2 linked regions of the Homo sapiens genome follow. The protein of the gene in region 2 purifies or fractionates together with the protein of the main gene of each other region. This does not show direct contact. Each region holds a gene or a part of one and is shown on either strand. Other genes may lie near its edges.

What was found. The genes of interacting proteins can lie anywhere in the genome.
Region 1: the proteins of ZNF23 (region 2) and POLR1F purify together in Homo sapiens (affinity purification with mass spectrometry; one large-scale study listed by BioGRID and IntAct). This does not show direct contact.

Annotation. Positions count from the first base shown.
Region 1 is NC_000007.14:19,699,038-19,703,345, forward strand, and holds part of POLR1F (DNA-directed RNA polymerase I subunit RPA43), read right to left. Parts: intron 1,244-4,308; coding exon 1,035-1,243; intron 1-1,034. UniProt on the Homo sapiens protein: Component of RNA polymerase I (Pol I), a DNA-dependent RNA polymerase which synthesizes ribosomal RNA precursors using the four ribonucleoside triphosphates as substrates.
Region 2 is NC_000016.10:71,455,011-71,460,128, forward strand, and holds part of ZNF23 (zinc finger protein 23), read right to left. Parts: intron 1,819-5,118; 5' UTR 1,787-1,818; coding exon 1,754-1,786; exon of another isoform or gene 1,684-1,753; intron 1,112-1,683; exon of another isoform or gene 1,083-1,111; coding exon of another isoform or gene 1,062-1,082; intron 1-1,061. UniProt on the Homo sapiens protein: May be involved in transcriptional regulation. May have a role in embryonic development.

The sequences.
Region 1 (4,308 bases), on a different chromosome or scaffold from region 2:
TCCAAGTTTTGGGTTGTTTCAGAAAAATTTGGTCACTGAACATTAAACACCACAATACCTAGGCTTATTAACCAAACCACTGACATCTAATAGAAAATATGATCTGGTATTTATCAAAGCAATGGAGTTTCCAGTCTACTATTTTAATCTTGTTTCAAATAATAGTCCATTGTTCTACTTAGCTGATACTAAGATAGTATTACTTTAACATTGTGAATTATTTTACACCACTAAAATAAAACATGGATCGATGAAGTAGCTTTCTCTCCAGAACTTCAGTCTTATACAGTAGCACTAGGCACATGTACCTAATCACTACCAAAAACATAACTTTAGAAATTCAGTTCCTCAGTCAGACTTAGTCATATTTCAATGCTCAATAGTGAGGCTGCTGTACTATGTATATAAACTGTATTTCTGTCATTACAGAAATTGAACAGCTGTTCCAGAACTTCAACCCATACTCTTGTAACTTTAAGGCAAAATACAGAAAAAATTATTAGCAATAGCAGCATTTTAAGAGTTGTCTCTCTCCTTCTTCCTTTAAACTTGGCTCCCATGGAATCAAGCTCAAGATCAGAGTTAATTCTTATAATAATTTCTATACAGAATAATACAGAAATTAAAATATCTGGCACAGAAGACAATAATCAACACAATTTTTTGTGTGTAAAAACAAAGCAGGCCAATAGTTAGGAAGGTAATTGTGCTTTCAGTAGTTTCAAGTTTAGAGGTCAACTTTAAAAAAAAAGTTAACAACAAAATAGAAAATACTCAGCAAAATTGAACTATTAAATATTAAAATACAGACCAGTTAGCTAGTCTGTGTTTCAGAATATTTATTTGATGCACTGTTACAGATTACTTAAGAGTATTGTTTATATTGACTTTATGGTTTGAAAGCATGAATATTCCTATAAACAGGTATTTTTAGAGAGGCTTATTCTCTTTAAAATTAAAATAAAATTCTCTTTAAAATTCAGAATTAAATAGAAATTAAGTACCTAGTGATAATTACGTAATGATAAACTAACCTTGTGATATTTAGTTTTCCCCGAATGCAGAATACTCCAGCAGCATCTGAGTCTAAACGAAATACTTCAAATTCTAGTTCATCACCCATGTTTATCTCCATGGTTTGCCACTGCTCAGCTGACAACTGCTCAGGTTTAGGAATGGAGGCATTGAAACACCCATGTACTAAACAGCCAATGTGGCTAGAAGACACTTTATTAACTATACCCTGGGAAGAAGAAGGAAGAAAGAGCGTAACATAAAGAACACATCCACAAAGTTAAAAGGTGAACCAAACTTTACAAGCTTCAAATAATCTTCAAAGAACAAACATCAAATTAATGGTCTAATTTAATATGGAAAAAGTTTACCTCAATTAAAACTTACCACATGTCATGCCAAAACATCACTTTAGAATACCACTGGGTTTTGAGAAAGCTCAAACTTTATTATATAAGTAATTGCACATTAACTGTCTAACTGGGCACATTAACTTTCTAACTGGATAAACTAACCTGCCCCCGCCACCCTGTCCAAGAAAAAAAACCATCTCAACTCCCCACTGCAGGATTCCTTAGGGAGGACAGTATTACTCTTTAGCTACATTGAAACCAAGCAAACCCCATATAACTTCTAAAAAGACCTCATATGCGTTTTATAACTGGGATCCATGTTACGTTTCTGTAAATAGACCAAATTTCAAAGCTTAAAAATGCATTCTTTAATTATTTAATTTAGCATGATGCAAGCATTCCATTAGAAGACAGCTTACCCTTTAAATGTAAATATTGACCATGACTATTTTTTGGCTAAATCACGAAAGTATTATTAGAAGCTTTAAAACTAAAACAAAAGTATGTGCTATATGATTTTAAGATGAGACTTTGCATAAAACTTATTTTTCTTCTCAGGGTCAATATATACAAAGCATATAAATGAGACTCAGAAATATTAAAAATTCACATTTTCTGAATTATGAAACTGCAAATAATGCCGATGTGTATACAATGCTGTTTAACATCAGCAACCCTTTACACATGTGACAGAATAAAACTTCCCTATCTGGTATGATCAGAAGTCTAGTGTTCCCACTGGTAGTTTCCAGATGGTCTAGATAAACAAACTGGTACAGCTATAAAATAAAAGATTATTCAGTAATAAAGATAAATAAGTTCTCACCATAAAAAGACATAGCGAAACCTTAAATGCATATTGCTAAGTGAAAGAAGTCAATTTGAAAAGGATACATACTCTATTCTTCTTCTTTAAAAAGGCAAAACTACGGAAACAGTAAAAAGATCAGTGGTTGCCAGGGATTACAGGGAACGGAGGGAAGAAGGGAGAAATGAATAGGTGGAGCACAAGCGGTTTTTAGGAGAGGATAACTATTCCGTATCATACTATAATGGAAGATAAGTTGTTGGGATTCACTCAGGATAGTGGCAGAAATATTAAAGGGAAATATTAGGGAAAGTTATAGGGAATAGTCACAAACCTTTTTGGAAGGCCAAAAGGTTACATAGCTTGTAATAGCTGAACAGGCCGAAGACAGCCGGTTCTTACCTTAGAGCATTAAGTTACAGAGTAAATACTAGGGACAATAGAGGCTTCCCCAGTTAAGTCTGTTTACCCTACCTCTGTTAACTAACCTTTAAGTCAGATGGCCTCTGGGGGGGCAGGGATATTGCCCCCAGTGATATTTACTTTAAACCTCGGTACCTGAGCTTTAATCATTCATAGAACTACTCACTTAACCATGTTAATTATCCAAAAGTGTGTGGACTCAGAGCTTCTGTTGTTAATTGTATACGAAATAAATGCCTGGAGTGTGAACTACTCAGGGCCAGCGGCAGTGACAAACCTCTCTCGGTGTGTAGGCAGTCGGACACTCAGCAGTACTGGCAAAGCAATATCTGTGTGTCAGTGTACGTTTCATTCATCCATCTTTTAGGTCAAGGTCTGCAGGCAGACCCCCGCAGCTAATGCCCTCTTGTGAGGAGCAATACCTCAATAAATGCCATGACACATTTGTGGAAACTCATAGAATGTACAACACAAAGACTGAACTCTAATGTAAACTACAGACTTTACTTGATAATAATGTATCAATATTGGCACAAAAATGGTAACAAATGCACCATACTAATGCAAGTTAATGTTGATAATAGGGGAAAGGGGGTGGTTATATGGGAACTCTATACTCTCCATTCAATTTTTCTGTAAACCTAAAACTGCTGTTAAAAATATGTCAATTTCAGAAAATCAATGAAAGAAAAGGTTTTTTAATATATGAATCCAGAACAACGGGAAAGCTACATGAAGGAGAGAGTGGATCTCAAGGCCTACCTCACACTACACACAAAAATTATTTGAGAATGATCACAGACTTAAATGGAAAAGCTAAAACTAAAAGCTTGTAGAAGTCGACAGAACAGTATCTGCACAACTTTTCGGCAGACAAATTTCTTTGATAGGGTCCAGAAAGCAATAGTCATAAACATATAAAATGATAAATTGGACCTCATCAAAATTAAAAGTAACTGTTCATCAAATAATACCATTACAAGTTAACAGACAAGTCACAGATTGGAAGAAAATATTCAAAATACTTATCTGAAAAGAATTCATTTTAAGACTAAAAAGAACTGCTATAAGTCAATAATAAAAATACAAAAACCCAATTAAAAATGGGCAAAATACTTGAACAGGCCCTTCTTACTGAAATATATGAAAAATTGCTTATGAGGGAAACGGAAATGCAAATTAAAACCATAATGAGATACTACTATATGCCCATCAGTACAATTAAAGGACAATAGCAAATGTTAATAACGATACAGAGTAAATGAAGTGTTGAATGGGAAATCAGTCTGACAATGGTTTTATATAAATACCCTGTGAACTAGCTCTTCTGCTTCTAGTTATTTACTTAAGAGAAATGAAAATGTATGTTTTCATTCATATGTCTGAAAATATATGTTTTCAATAGCTTTATTCATAAAAGCCCCAGCCTGGAATCAATCCATCAATGAAGACAGATAATTATATTGTGATATAGTCATATAACTGAATACCATGAGCAATAAAAAGGAACAAACTACCAATACACACAACAGCATGGATGAAACTCAAAAACATGCTGATCAAAAGGCGGCAGATTTTAAGAATGTATAATGAATAATTCCATTAATATGGAACTATAGAATAAGCAAAACCAACTTATGATAAAATCAGAAGAGTAATTATATCTGCAATAAAGAGAAGGAATTGGGCCAGGAAAGGGCATGAAGATCC
Region 2 (5,118 bases):
ACCATGGGGGCTCACTGGCAGGGATCTGCTGCTCAACTCCTCTCTGCTAGGATGTGTCTTCCTGGAATTTACTGACCTCCACCCATCAGCAATTCTAGTCCAACCTTTAGGTGTTTCTGTGAGCCTTCTTTGTGTGACCTTCAACAAGTAACTTCTCTGCACAAAATATAATGTCTTCACTGTGTGCCGCCACCACCACCCTGGTAAGTTGGCACTTCCTTCTGAACTTACACTTCAGCTGGGGTCAGAATCACCCTCACAAGAAACCTCAGCCAGAAACCTGGGGATTGTTCTTGACTTCCCACCTTCCTTATCACCACAAATCCTTTGAGTCTCTATGTCCGAAAGATTTTTTTTTTTCTTTGAGTTGGAGTCTCGCTCTGTCACCCAGGCTGAAGCGCAGTGGCATGACCTCGGCTCACTGCACCCTCTGCCTCCCGGGCTCAAGCAATTCTCCTGCCTCAGCCTCCTGAGTAGCTGGGACTATAGGCATGCACCATAAAACCCAGCTAATTTTTCTATTTTTAGCAGAGACAGGGTTTCACCATGTTGGCTGGGCTGATCTTGAACTCCTGACCTCAAGTGATCCAACCACCTCAGCCTCGCAAAGTGCTGGGATTACAGGTGTGAGCCACCACACCCGGCCATGATTTTTCTATCTTAAGCATTACTTGAATTGGATCCCTCTTTAATGATGGCTTTCCTTGATGAAGCCCATGTCACGGGACCAGTGGGATTCTTCTTTGTGAAGTGGTCACCGTGCTTTTGAATCTTCCTTACAAATTATTCCATACACATCACAAATCTGACCAAGTTAACATCACTGGTTCCACAGCTGTCTTATGGCTAAGCAGTTCTGAATCACACAATAACTCTGTGATCCTGGGCAAGTTACTCTACTCCCCTTTTGCCTTTTCTTTTTAGGTGGAAAGAGTACAACACAGCACTTATCACAGAGGCGGTTGTCAGGACCAAACGACCATACAAAGGGCTTAGTATGGCTCCTGGAGCATAGTAAGCCTCCAAAGATACAACTGGTGTGACTGTGGACTGTTCCCAACCTGTAGTCCATGGAAGTCCATGGATGAGCTTCAGGGGATCCGTGAAGTCCCTGAAAATGTATGGAAAATTTGGTTTGCAGGTTTATGTTCTGCAGGTTCCCCGCACAACACCTCTTTCCTGCAGGACAGGGTGGAAAGCTCTTCTCAGAGACCTAAAGTCTGCATCCTAAACTTTGAAAGCTTCACAAGCACAATGAGACATTCCGTCCCATGTGACTGTCTTCCCCCTCCCTTGACTCCACTCCCTGTGACCTTCCCTTACCCCTGAATTAGAGGCACGGCCATCCTTCTCTGATCAGGTCCTGCTATTCCTCTTCTCTACATCCCCACCACAGATAGTCCAATCCTCTGCGACTGTGCTCCACTGACACCCCTGCACAGTACATCCCACAGGGGCGGTTTCCACGTCCCCATTCACCCAGAGCCCTATGCTGGGGGTGCTCCTGTAGAGAGGAGCAGAGACCCTCAGTGTGCAGAAGACCACCACCCTCCTGCTCTCCTGCTCACTCTCCCGCTTCCTCCACTCGCTACTGTCCTGGTCTCTGCCGCCCTCCCTGCACAACACCTCTTTCCCACAAGTTCCAGTCCAGCAGGTGGAAGCAGCTGTCATCCCGAGGCTCACCAGCTCCCCTTCTCAATGTTTTTCAATCTGAAACTGCCCAGAGGAAGAGCTGAAGGACCCCACAGCTCACCTGGGGCCAGGCTGTCAGGTGCATGGCTGCCATCCCCTGGTCCCCGTCTCAGAGAAGGGCTGGAGCTAAGGAGAAACACAAAGAGAGACAAGTGTGAGGCAAGCCACCCCAACCAGAGCAACATAGCCCCTCACAGAAAATGCAAGACACAGGCAGCTTGCATCCAAATAGGAGTGCGAACAGGAGCTGCCCAAGAAGGGAATGATCTGTTCACTGGCTCAGTGCCTAGGACTCCAGGCTATGACACTGAAATTCACTGCCAGGAACCCTAGGACTTTACAATTCTGATACATATCACACACACTGAAGAGTATATATATAAAATTTAAAAATAAACAAATAAAAATTAAAAATAAAAAGAAGAAGAAGAGTGCATATAAAACCTGCTGGGCACGGTGGCTCGTGCCTATAATCCCAACAGTTTGAGAGGCCAAGGCGGGTGGATCACTTGAGCTCAGGAGTTCGAGACCAGCCTGGACACATGGCAAAACCCTGTCTCTATAAAAAATACAAAAATTAGGCTGGGCGCGGTGGCTCAAGCCTGTAATCCCAGCACTTTGGGAGGCCAGGGCGGGTGGATCACAAGGTCAGGAGATCAAGACCATCCTGGCTAACACGGTGAAACCCCGTCTCTACTAAAAATATAAAAATTAGCCGGGCGTGCTGGCGGGCGCCTGTAGTCCCAGCTACTCGGGTGGCAGAGGCAGGAGAATGGTGTGAACCCGGGAGGCAGAGCTTGCAGTGAGCCAAGATTGCGCCACTGCACTCCAGCCTGGGCAACAGAGCAAGACTCCGTCTCAAAAAAAAAAAAATTAGCCAGAGGTGGTGACACATGCCTGTGGTCCCAGCTATTCGGGAGTCTGAGGTAGGAGGATCACTTGAGCCCGGGAGGTCAAGGCTGCAGTGAGCCAGTATCACACCACTGCACTCCAGCCTGGGTGATGAGAGTGAGACGCTATCTCAAAAAAATAAAAAATAAAAATAAAATAAAATGTATGCAGAGCCTAAAAAATAAAGCAAAGAGTCATGTATCCACAATTCATTTCAAGAAATAGGACAATACCAAGATCTTTGACTTATTTCTCTTTCTCAACACAAGCATTATCTTCAGTATCACAGCAGGAGAAGCTGGACTGGCTGGGCTGCAGCCCCAGTACACAAGCCTGGGGAGTCAGACCCCAGGGAGGCAGCGCCTGGAGAAGGCAGCTGCCCCCCAGTATCCTGCCCCACTTCCTCAGAGCTCTGAATGTCCTCAAGAATCCTAACACCTCTGGAGAGGTCTTGAGAGGTCAGTCCTCCTAAGGACAGCACAGGCTGTCCTTAGGAAGCTGAGCTGGAAGTTAGGAACCAGGCTGTTTCCCAAACTTTCCAGTCTTCTGATAGTGAATGAGCCAAGGCCTACACTTCTGCGTCAGCTCCTGAGAGAGGAGATCACTGTAGCAGCCAGTCCCGTGACCCAGAGCCTCTTGTTCACTGTATTCAAAAACATATGGACTAGTGATTTTCTGACTTTTACTGCCCCTAAAGTCAGTCTTGAAATTACATTTTCCTAAAATATCATCCATTTCTTCCAGGATTTCAACTTTACTAGTACAGAGTTGCAGAAAATACTGGTTCATGATTCTTTCCATTTCCTCCATATCCAGAGCTAGTTTGCTTTTCCCACTTCTTCTTTTGAATATATGTGCTTTCTAGACCTTTTTCCCAGGGTTAGAGTTAGAGACTAAACATTTATGCCCCTGCCAAATTCATATGTTGAAGCTCTAGCCTCCAATGTGACTGTATATGGAGACGGGGCCTGTCAGGAGGTTACAAGGATAAATGAGGTCCTAAGGGTGGGACTAAAGGTCCTAAGGTTAAATGAGGTCCAATAGGGGTGATGCCTTTACAAGAAGAAGGAGAGACCCAGAGCCCACGAAACCACTCACTCCCCGCCTCCCCCATGTGAGGACACAACGAGAGGGCTACTATCTATAAGCCAGGAAGGCAACCCTGGCAGGAGCCAAAATCAGCTGGCACCTTGATCCTGGACTTCCAGTCTCCAGGACTGTGAGAAATAAGTATGTTGGTGAAGCCACCCAGTCTATGGTATTTTGTTATGGCAGCCCAAGCAGACTAATACAGTTAGGCTGAGCAGTGTTTTACTTATTTTAATGTGGTTTCCTTTTATTTTCAAAGAACCAGCTTTTCTAGTTGAGCAACACTACTTTCTTCTATTTGTTTTAAATTCACTAATTCTGCTCTTAGTTTGTTCCTTCAGCTCTGTAAGGGGCAGTGTAAGCACCACTCCAATCCTCTTATCCCATCCTCAGTCCAGTTCTACAGAGGTTAGTCAGCTTTGTGAAGCTGCAAGCTACCAGAACCTTCACAAGGACCTACATCACCTATGCCTGGTTCCTGCCCTGGGGCTTCTCTGGTGTCCTATGTGGGACACCTGTGGACACCTGCTGGGCCCTGAAGTGCAGAGGCATTAACACCTGTGGGACCCCCTTGACCAATAGGGGAGAGAAACCAATGGATAAATGTTTTCCCCGTCGATCCCCCAGCGGGGCAGCCTTAAGACTCCAAGGCTCCTCAAACGCCCTGCAAGGCAGAGCCTGTTGAGGGCCGAGCATACCAATGCATCCTTGTACCAGTTCTCCCATCTCTGTTTCACTCCCCTTGTCTTTCACTCTGCCCCTGTGACCATATTCCTAAATAAATTCCTACATACAAATCTTTGTTCCACGTTCTGCTTTTGGGGAAGCTTAGACTACAAAAGGCTTTTTTCCCACCTTCTTGAGGTTGCATGACTTATTCATTTATTTTCATTCTTCCTATTTGGCAATTAAAGCCTATAAGGCCACAAATTTTCCTTGGGATACACTATTTGCCACATTCCAGAGGTTTTTATATTTCATGTTTTAATTACTGTTTTATAGTCAGTCAGCAATTCTGTTTTGTCTCTGACCTAGTAATTGCTTAGGATAGTTTACTGTTGCTAATTTCTTCTGTTTATAAGTTCTGGCTTTATTGCATGATGGTTATATAACCCAATCTACTAACTTCTACTTTACACATTTTTCAGGGTTTTTTTGTGACTCATGTCCATTTAAAAAAATATATTATCTGGTGTTTAAAGAGAAAACTTATTCTGTGATGGGAGAATATACAACTCCATTTTTAGATAATAAACCAACTCTACCAATTACATATGTAGTGTGATAGCTACCCCGCTCAGCTAGTCAAGGGTGTATACCTGCTGCCTGAACCTTGAAGACCGGGCAGTGAGTCAAGACCATGGGGCTCAGCAGAGGAGCAGGTGTTTGCAAGAACGTAAACATCCTAGAAAGTATATGAGAACCTACCAAGAAAAGTCTCATCGT